Regions from separate parts of the Homo sapiens genome. Here all the other regions are reported to be linked to region 3. Evidence: microRNA targets listed by miRTarBase, many of them from high-throughput screens and not tested one by one. Region 3 holds a microRNA gene; each other region holds the end of a gene's coding sequence.
Evidence for each region. The annotated mature microRNA hsa-miR-3182 reads GCUUCUGUAGUGUAGUC and lies in region 3 at 1,830-1,846, shown strand. An mRNA with a match to its seed (bases 2 to 7 or 8) in the 3' UTR can be bound and repressed. Matches are read on the target gene's strand: a 7mer-m8 pairs with bases 2 to 8, a 7mer-A1 pairs with bases 2 to 7 and ends in A, and an 8mer does both.

Region 1 (3,260 bases), not on the chromosome of region 3:
AGCGGGGAGAGAGAATCTGAACTTTCAGCTGTAAACCGGTTAAAACCAAAATGCTCAGCCCAGGACCTTTCCATCTCAGACTGGCTGGCCAGGGAACGCCTACGCACCAGTACCTCTGACCTTAGCAGAGGAGAAATCGGAGATCCCCAGACAGAGAACCCAAGCACACGAGAAATAGCCACGACCGACACACCTTTGTCTCTTCATTGCAACACAGGCAGTTCTTCCAGCACCTTGGCTTCAACAAACAGGCCCCTTCTTTCCATACCACCACAGTCACCTGACCAAATAAACGGAGAAAGCTTCCAGAACGTGAGCAAAAATGCTAGTTCTGCAGCGAATGCCCAACCTCATAAACTGTCTGAAACCCCAGGCAGTAAAGCAGAGTTTCATCCCTGTCTTTAAACTGGGGGTATGTCCACTCTAGCAAGTAAAAAAACTACTGTTACACGTTCCAGTAACTCTGTCAATATTTTCTTGTATCAGAATTGTTATTATGCAGCCTTCATTTGGGCTGGTTTCATCATTTTGCACTGTGAAATAGCTTTACAGTGCATTACTACAGCCAGAAGAACATATATATATATATATATATTTAAAAATATATCGGATAGTTGTATACAAATGAGCAAGGTATTTGTTGCAACTTACTACATAGCATATACCCAAAATCACTGAAGAAAATCGCTGGCATCAGTGTGCAGCAAATTTGTTCTTTTGGTTTCATCACTAACAAAAGTGCCTCATCATAAAAATACAGTTGGTTTTTAGGGTGCCATATTGTTAAAATTAGATAACTTACTTACATTGAATAAACGAATGCGTTTTATTGGTAACAGATATCATTACATTTACCAGTTTTAACACAGGTGGATACAGAACTTCCATTCTTTAGTCATTCCAGGTGGATCTGAGTTTTATATTCAAACTTTTAATACAGTTTTTGAGTTTTGTGTGACTTGAATTTTTAATCTTTCTGTAAAATACGTAACTTAAATGAACATATTAAATGTGTATCTTTTCTTCAGATACCAGATTTGATATAATGTTGTAACATAGGTGTGTAGATAGTGGATCCTGGATGGAACTGGCTTCTTTATCGAGAAGAATATAATTCTGCATGAGGACTTAATGAATCCAAACCTGTGTCATGCCTGTGTGCATACCCAATTAAACACTGGAAATAAAAATTGTTTTGGTGAATTTTGCATGGCTTGAAACTTATTCTGATATATTTTTAGATGTCATCCATTTATAACTACCTTACATGATTAATTGGTCCTGACTTTAAAAAGGTGCCTACTATATTTATACATTCCATCTTCTCCTCTTTCTTGCTGTGGTGGGTAGAGACTCTTTCTTACAGATGCTTACATTAGCCTAACCTCACTTGTTGACTGATAGTGTTTAACTCTTCTAGGTAAAGTAATGTATGTTATGTTAATGTTCTTTTCGTGAGTGAAACGAACATGAGTTTGGAGTCAGTCCAGCTCTACCTAGGTATGTGAACTTGAACACATTATTTAACTTCTCTGAATTTGTTTTCTCATATAAACAGTTAGTTACAGTAACACTACCTATTATAAGGGTGATTAGATTTAAATGAGATACTGTTCCACTTACAGTGCCTGCCACACACTAGTTTCAAAATAGAACAAAGCTATTGTTGGAAGTAATGGTTACAAAAAAATCTCAGACTGTTAAGGCTGAGAAGGACCTTAACAGTCATCAAATCCAGAGATTGTCAACTGTCAAACATGATACTTTCTTAAAAGTATTTTGAGATTTCCCCTTTACCATCATGAAATTCATAATATATCTAAATATAACTTTACATTGAGTATGTTATGATATAGACCATAATCCCCTATTATAAAAGAAAAATGAAAGTGATTTATAATAAAATAAATTTTTCAATATGCAAATGCTCAGGTACAACTACATCATGAAAATAATATAATGGAATAGTCAGATGTTTGCTCCAGTATATAGAGTCACTAACAATGGTAACTACACATGGAGATGGTACCATGAATAGTTTGCTGCTGGCGATGAGATTTTACTAGGAGTCATGCTCTGCTTTTAAAGTTTTGAACAAAACAAAGCACACACTTCCCTTAGTTTACATGAGGGGGAGTTCTTGCAGTGTATTATTAAAAGTGTCAAAAACACTTTTTACTTATATGTTTTAAAAGTTACTTTCAAGGCTCAAATAGTTTTATATTATTTGTTCTTGCTCCTCATTTTTTCTATATTTTTTTTTCTTTTGAGAGAGAGTCTCACTATCAGTCTATTGCCCAGGCTGGAGTACAGTGGTACGATCATCACAGTTCACTGCAGAGCTGCGACTGACAGGCACATGCCACCATGCCCAGCTAACTTTTTTTTTTTTGTATTTTTTGTAGAGATGGGCTTTCTCCATGTTGCCCAGGCTCATCTCAAACTCCGAGGCTCAAAGCGATCCGCCCGCCTTGGCCTCCCAAAGTACTGGGATTACCGGCATGAGTCACCACGCCCAACCTTTCTTTGGCTATAATTTGCTCGACTTTTTAATTTCTTGAGACGATTGCTTGGAAAATTGATTTTTAGTTGTTTTCTAATATCTTCATTTTAAGGCTATATGCTGTATTTTTATTATCATTCATTTCAAAATGCTTTCTAGTTTGCATTCTGATTTTTTTCTTTAACCTGTGAGTTATTTAGCAATGTATTGCTTAATTTCCAAACATTTGAAAACTTTCTGGTTATGTTGACTCCAGCATAATGTTACATTATCATTAAACATACATTTGAAATTGAGACATCCATTTTGACCCCACTATATGGTCAATTTTGAGAAATAACACGTCTACTTGAAAAGAATATGTTTCTATCCTTACTGGATGCTTTTTATTTGGTGTATTAGGTCAAATTTAATCATGTTTTACAGATCTAGATCATTATAGATTTCTTCCCTGGCTCTTACCAGTTCCTGAGAAGTGATAGAATATTATGATATGAATGTAGATTTGCATATCTTTTATGTCAATCTTTTATTTTGAAGTTAGTTTACTAAGTGAACATAAATTTAGAATTGTTACGTCTTTGTGGTAGATTGACCCTTCTATTATGAAATGTCCTTCATAATGAGTCTCAACCAAAGCTTTATTACCTTATTTTATATATTAATGTAGCTATATTAGTTACTTTTGGTTAGTATTTGCATAATACATCATTTCCATCCGTATTAATCCTTTTGTATTTTTCTCATAACAGCATAT
Region 2 (3,260 bases), not on the chromosome of region 3:
GAGAGGCCGCAGGAATATCCAGTCTTCACGCTTCTTTGGACTTCGAGCCCACTTCTTACCGGTAGGTCCTGGGCATACAACATACCACTGCATAATGGTCATGAGCACAGACTCGGGAGCCAAACCACAAGACTTCAAATGCTGGCTCTGCGACTTACTATCAGCTGATTTGAGACCAGCTGCTCGGCCTCCACATGTCTCAGTTCTCTTATGTACAAGATGGGCACCTACCTCCTGAGGTTGTTGTGAGGATTAAATGAGTTAATATATACAAATATTTATTATGGTGTTTGGCCAAAATAAGTTCTATGTGTGTGATTGTTATCAGCATTTTTGGAATCTCTAGTTCTTCCTACAGGAACGAGTGGTGACCCCACCAACTCGCTCACGCCTGACATAGCTTCTCACGGGGCCTGGCTCATGGTGGAAAATCGCATTTTCCTTATTTCTGCTTTTATAATAAACTTACCTATCATTTGAACTAACTTGAGTGGGTCTCAGTTCTTTGCAATAGAAAGGGTTGCTACCATGTAAGCTTTGAAAAATGAGGTGTAAACTGTGGATGTTACAAATGTGCAACAGTCCTTCAGAGTCGGAAAGGGTAGCTGGGACTCTGGGGCCTCTAGACTTGAGCACTTCCTGGGGAGGGAACCCAGAGTCCCACTTCCGGCCAGCAGAGCAAGGAGGTTCATTAAGCTGCCTTATCTTGAAGTTACCAGGTTTTAGGATCTATCCACTTCCCCTGTGCTGACTCCATACTCCGAAAGCAAGTAAACTTCAAGTAAAATTACCCTAGGGGAGAAGCAGGTACTGACAGACCAACATGAGTGTTTTCACTTATGAGCAGTTTTATTTCTCAGTGTAAGACATATAAATTGTTCTCACTGACATATAACTATTAAAAGAAAAATAAAATAAAACAATTTAAAAAGAAGAAATATAAATTGTATTTCTGAATCCAAGTCACCTGTGGGGGTGTAGCCAGCATTAAAATAATCGCCAGGACCCATGCAGGCATCTATCTCTGAATGAGGCAGTGCAGCATAGCAGTTAAGAGCTCTTGGGTCAGACATGGATGAACTGGTTGCATGATCTTGGCTCGTTACCAAGATAAAGTGACACAAGGTGTGTAAAGCTCCCGAGCTGCAAGCCAGGATCTTCATACACATACATTTTAGAGGATAATAGTCCTTTCAAAAGACACAGCTAAAGCCAATAAAAATAAACAAAAATAGGATCTACTTTTCTGGAATCACAGGTTTGGGTGCTTTGGATATGTTTTATCATTATATAGGCACTTGTGTGTGTCTGTATTTTTTTGAATATACAACATTTTAATGAGATACTGCACACTCCCAGGGAAAGCAATTCAATCTCTAATCCCTGGCTTCTGATCTCCACCTCTTTTCTACCTGCTGAGGTAAGGATGAACAACAGAACTTCTCAATTGAATTCTAAGCTTGGGCCTAAGCACGCTGTGCCCTCTGCCTTTGAGTTTGCACCCTGGATGGCTCCCCTCCTCCCAGGAGACCCAGTAGGGAGATGACAGAGCATTGTAGTTTACACTGAGCAGAGTAAACAGATGATGTTAAGGAGACTGTCAGTGAAGGGCATGATTATGCAAAATAAAATACAATAGTGACAAGAACAAGAAAATAAAACATGGTCACTCTTCCATCCCATTTCTCAGATGTCACTACAGTAGTCTCAATTACGGTAGTCTCAATTCTTTAGACTAAAGTTCATAGGTCATCCAACTTATGCCCTGGCCTCCTTCTGGAATTCTTTTACCTAGCAGTTTCTGAGCCCACAGCTGAGCTATTTGTGACCCATTTGCTCCCACTATCTCATTTCTTGACCTCAGATGGTAATCAACTGATCAGGAAGACAATTTCCCTAGGGTTGAGTGTGGTCCCTGGGTTATGATTTATGGCTATACCTTATGTCCTCCTGCCCCCAGGCCCTGCACCTTAATCTCACCCAGAAGTGGCAACACCAGGAGGAAGGAGGCAGTGAGTGGCGTCGGCTGGGGATGGCACACATCTGCCCATAATGACAATGGAGACAACCCAGTGCTCCAGAGTCACAGGTCATCCAGCCAGTTCTCTGCTGTTTCCTCTTCTTAAGATGCTTCTTCCCCTCTTTTCCCTATTGACCATAGGCATCCTTTAGACCACCCTTTTCAGAAAGCCATCCCCCACTCACCCTCTCCTTCCAGGCTGGGCTATGCCCCTTCCCCTGAACTCCCATAATGCTGGGGTTGGACTTCCCGTAACACCCACCACACTGTGCTGTAATTTCCTCTTTATGTTTCTCTGTCTTCCCAAGAGCTCTTTCAGATATAGAGCAGGTTTTTTTTTTCTCTATATTTTCAAGTCACCAGTGGCCACCACACTGCTTGGTTCATAGTTAACACAAACTAAATGGTTCTAGAGAATGTGATTACATGAACTCTAACATTATTGGAAGAAAACAAGATGAAAAGAGGTGAGATGCCTTGTTTAAAGTCATACAACTGGTTGACAGGCTGGTTCAAGAACCCAGGTCTTCTGACTTCAAATCCAGTGCCCTTTCTATGCAGCTACTTCTGTGCCAAGCACGGATGGTGGTGAGCAGAACTGGCAGCAGCCTGAGTCCCCAGGTACCCTGGCCATCCACTGGGCATTGGGGAAAGGACTTGATCAGTAGATTGAGAGTCCTCTCTTCTATCCCTTACCACCCGGCCCCATCCCATCTTCTAAAGCAGTCATTTCTATTCCAAGTCATCCAGGTGATTCAGCCAGGGATCAAGTCCACATGGTACTTGGGTTGATATGAGTCCTGTACTTAGAGGAGAGTAGGTAACTGCTCCTTCTCAGGAGCTCAGGGAGAAACTGGACCCTCGGCCCCAGAGCCCAAAGAAGGGAATGACCTTCCTAGTGAAGGAGGCAGTGAAGGTGTAGATGGGCTCTCGGGTGACAGCGTTGGTGAAGGTCACCCAGCCCACCTCATAGTCAAGAGACACCCTCACCTGCCGGGGCTGCTCCTTCAGGGTCAGCCGTGTGGGGAAGGAGCCCAGAGCCGAGACGAAGCCCCAAGCCAGCCTCACAGCCCACACCCCCTCCTCTGGCCGCAGCCGAAGCTCCCCCTTCCGCTGCACATCCTCGCTCACCACGCCCACGGTGCAGCTGCCCCCATGGGCCAGGTCTATACTCACCACCCACGTGTGTCTCCCCCCTGTGATGCCAGTGTGGGCCAGAACACAGGTGGCCCGGTCAAAA
Region 3 (3,260 bases):
CATTTTCTCTTCCCTCAAAGATAATGCACTTCTGACTTTTGCATATTATGGTAGCCAGCCCCCAGGAGGGCTCCCAGTGATTCTCACCTCATGGTACCCATGCTCCTGCGTGGTCCCCTCCCACATCGAATAGGAATGACTTGTGTAGCCAAATAGGACATGGCAGAAATGACTTTGTGTGAATTCTGAGCCTTGTTTATTCTTGTCCTTTCTTGCTACAGGCAAAGCCAAATGCCGTGTTGTAGGGAAGCTCAAGTAGCTTCATGGAGAAATCCACATGGCAAGGAACTGAGGCCACCTACTAATAGCCAGCATCAATTCTTTAGCCGTATGTGTGAGCCACCTTGGAAGTAGACCTTCTAGCCCCCATCAAGCTTTTAGATAACTGTAGCCTCACCAACATCCTGACTGAACTACACAGCTGAGCAGCTTCCATATCTCCAAGCCACAAACACTGTGTGCAATCATAAATGTTTTTAGTTGCTTTAAAGCACTAAGTTTGGGGTAATTTTATTCAGCATTAGATAACTAATACACATAGTCTGTTTCACCAGCTAAAATTGCTGCTCATTTCTCTGTTACCCCCCAAACCTGGTGTGAGCAGCCCCTCCTCTGTGGACTTTTTCTGGTCTTCTTTGCATGACTCAATCCCTCTTTCTTCATTTTCTCACACAGATTGTTTAGCATTCTATTAATGCCACTGTCACAAGGAAAAGCAATATTTTTATTACAGTCTCTCTCCTCTGTCGATTCTAGGCTTCTTGAGAAAGTTTGTAATGTATGCATTCTTCAAAGAGGTATTGTTATTAATAGAGGCTCAGAAGATGGCTGAATGAATGAAGAGTGTGTGTTAGAACCTGGGGAAATTTAAACCAAATACATTTAAAGCCAGTGACATTTTCAAAGCATATTTGGCTAGAAAGACTAAGTTCTTTAAAGTAGTTTAGAAGCAGTATTAATGGTACACAGTCTTTGTCCCATTCTTAACAGTACAATAATGATAATTGGTTGCTACTCTGGAAACAAATTAAAGAGCCCAGGAAACGTTTCCAAAGGTGACTGGAATGCTTAACTGAGCTAGACTGTTAATATCTAATGCTAGCCTTCCTGTGGGCATAGCACCCTGAATTGCCTGATCTCATCTAATGGCACATGCTCAGACATCCTTGGTTTTAAATAAAAATTGTCTTATCACTTAGTTTAAAAATGTTTTGCTTAGTAAAAAATTTATGAGGGCAGGTGCGGTGGCTCATGCTTGTAATCCCAGCACTCTGGAAGGCCGAGGCAGGCAGATCATGGGCTCAGGAGTTCGATGCCAGCCTGGCCAACATAGTAAAACCCGTCTCTACTAAAGATACAAAAATTAGCAGTCCGTGGTGGCGGGCGCCTGTAATTCCAGCTACTCAGGAGGCTGAAGCAGGAGAGTCGCTTGAAACCGGGAGGCAGAGGGTGCAGTGAGCCGAGATCGCGCCACTGCACTCCAGCTTGGGCAACAAGAGCAACATTCGGTCGAAAGAAAGAAAGAGAGAAAGAGAAGAAGGAAGGAAGGAAGGAAGGAAGGAAGGAAGGAAGGAAGGAAAGAAGGAAGGAAAAGGAAGGAAGGGAGGAAGGAAAGGGAAGGGGAGGGGAGGGGAGGCGAGGGGAGGGGAGGAGAGGGGAGGAAAGGGAAGGGAAGGGAATACATTTAATAAATGTGGAGTCTGCCAAATCAGGTCGGCAGTTTACTTCTCCTGTCCCCGGTTCAATAACTCACTTACTGGGGTTCTGGAGGATAGCAGTGAGAAGATGGGGTAAAAAATTAGAGAGAAGTTTTGCGTTGCCCCATGGCTGCTTCTGTAGTGTAGTCCGTGCATCCGCCCTTCGATGCTTGGGTTGGATCATAGAGCAGTGACTGTTGATGGCTCACCCAGATCCCCAGGAACCCACCACTCCCATACAGGCTTTCAACCTGTTAATCCCTGCAGCTGCCTGCCTGGACTTTCCTCTGACCATGGGAGTGTGCTCAGTCTTACTGCCCAGGGAACAGCCATCAGCCTTTGAGTGGCAAGAGTTGGTAGATTACCATCCCTTCTTGACCCTTGGAATAGGACAACTTCGAGATATGTTCTCCCGAGTCTCCCAGATGACCCCAGTGAGTTTGAACACCAGTTGTCCACAGAGATAATCTGCCCATTGCCACCTGTGTATTGACTCTTTTACATATTCTGTCTCACTTCTCTTTCTCCCTCACTTGTGCTTCTTAAGATTGTATCCTGAATAAGCTATTTGCACTCAAATAGGCAGAGAGCTAGCTGGATCCATTATTCTCTCTTGTCTTCTATATTTTAGATATCTTGTAACAGGCACAAGGTACCGTGTAGAGCTGAGGTGTAATGACCCAGCTGATCTGTTTGTACTTTCTCATGCTGCTAATGGGTACCTGGAGTTGAGAATTTATGCATAGGTGTGTACATGCCATCACAGCTCTGTGTGCATGAGTGCCTGTGGGGTCTGCATAGCATGCACACATCACAGAAACCCTCTGCCCTCCCTTCTCATTCCTCTATTTGAAGCCAAGTTTCCATAATCCCTCTACTCAACCCCCTTCTTCCCCAGCCCCCAGGGGCTTCCCATACTTAGGGTCACCCTTTCTTACCTCAGAGTTTCAAAGATGTAAGAGCTGATGCCCACCTTGATGGTATTCACAAAGTATAGCAGGGAGGCGGCCATGGAAATGACTCTTTACAGCAGGATGATATGTGGAACATGCCATGGCCAGGGAAGTAACTTTGTCTCAAGGGGATCAGGAAGATGCCCAGGTATGGGATAACTTGAGCAAAAGATTTTTGAGCACTGATCTGCAGATTTTACTCTCTGTAAAGGGCCAGATAGTAAGTATTTTAGGCTTTGTGGGCCATATGGTGGCTGCTGCAACTGTGCAGCTTTACTTTTTTGTAGCACAAAAGCAAGCATAGATACCACATAAATGAATGAGCATGGCTGTGTTCCAATAAAACTTTATTTACAAAAGCAGATGGTGGGCCAGATTTGTCCCATTAGCTGTGGTTTGCTGACCTCTGATTTAAAGAGTGGGAAGTAGATTTCTGGAAAGGGAGAAAGGAAGACTATTTCTAGCAGAGAGAAGAAAACATATAAAGGCAAAGAGTGGGAAACCAGAGGGAATAAGACAAATTTGATTTACCAAAAAGTCCTTTTTGGTGGTAGTAAAAAATACTAATAATAAAAACTAAGTTTTATTAAAGCCTTATTATGAGTCAAGC

Region 1: the mRNA of ARHGAP21 is a reported target of hsa-miR-3182. Seed matches in the 3' UTR shown: 7mer-A1 at 567-573.
Region 2: the mRNA of TRIM10 is a reported target of hsa-miR-3182. Seed matches in the 3' UTR shown: 7mer-m8 at 2,585-2,591 and 7mer-A1 at 2,546-2,552.

The regions. Positions count from the first base shown.
Region 1 is chr10:24,581,557-24,584,816 of GRCh38, reverse strand. It overlaps ARHGAP21 (Rho GTPase activating protein 21), which reads left to right. Exons shown (of 26, transcript NM_020824.4): 26 at 1-1,203. The coding sequence ends at 405. Among named protein-coding and RNA genes, the nearest start is that of ARHGAP21, 140 kb to the left of the region's middle.
Region 2 is chr6:30,151,115-30,154,374 of GRCh38, forward strand. It overlaps TRIM10 (tripartite motif containing 10), which reads right to left. Exons shown (of 7, transcript NM_006778.4): 7 at 829-3,260. The coding sequence ends at 2,855. Among named protein-coding and RNA genes, the nearest start is that of TRIM10, 8.5 kb to the right of the region's middle.
Region 3 is chr16:83,506,520-83,509,779 of GRCh38, forward strand. MIR3182 (microRNA 3182) reads left to right here and starts at 1,827; the gene lies at 1,827-1,889. The region is part of intron 7 of CDH13 (cadherin 13); the gene reads left to right.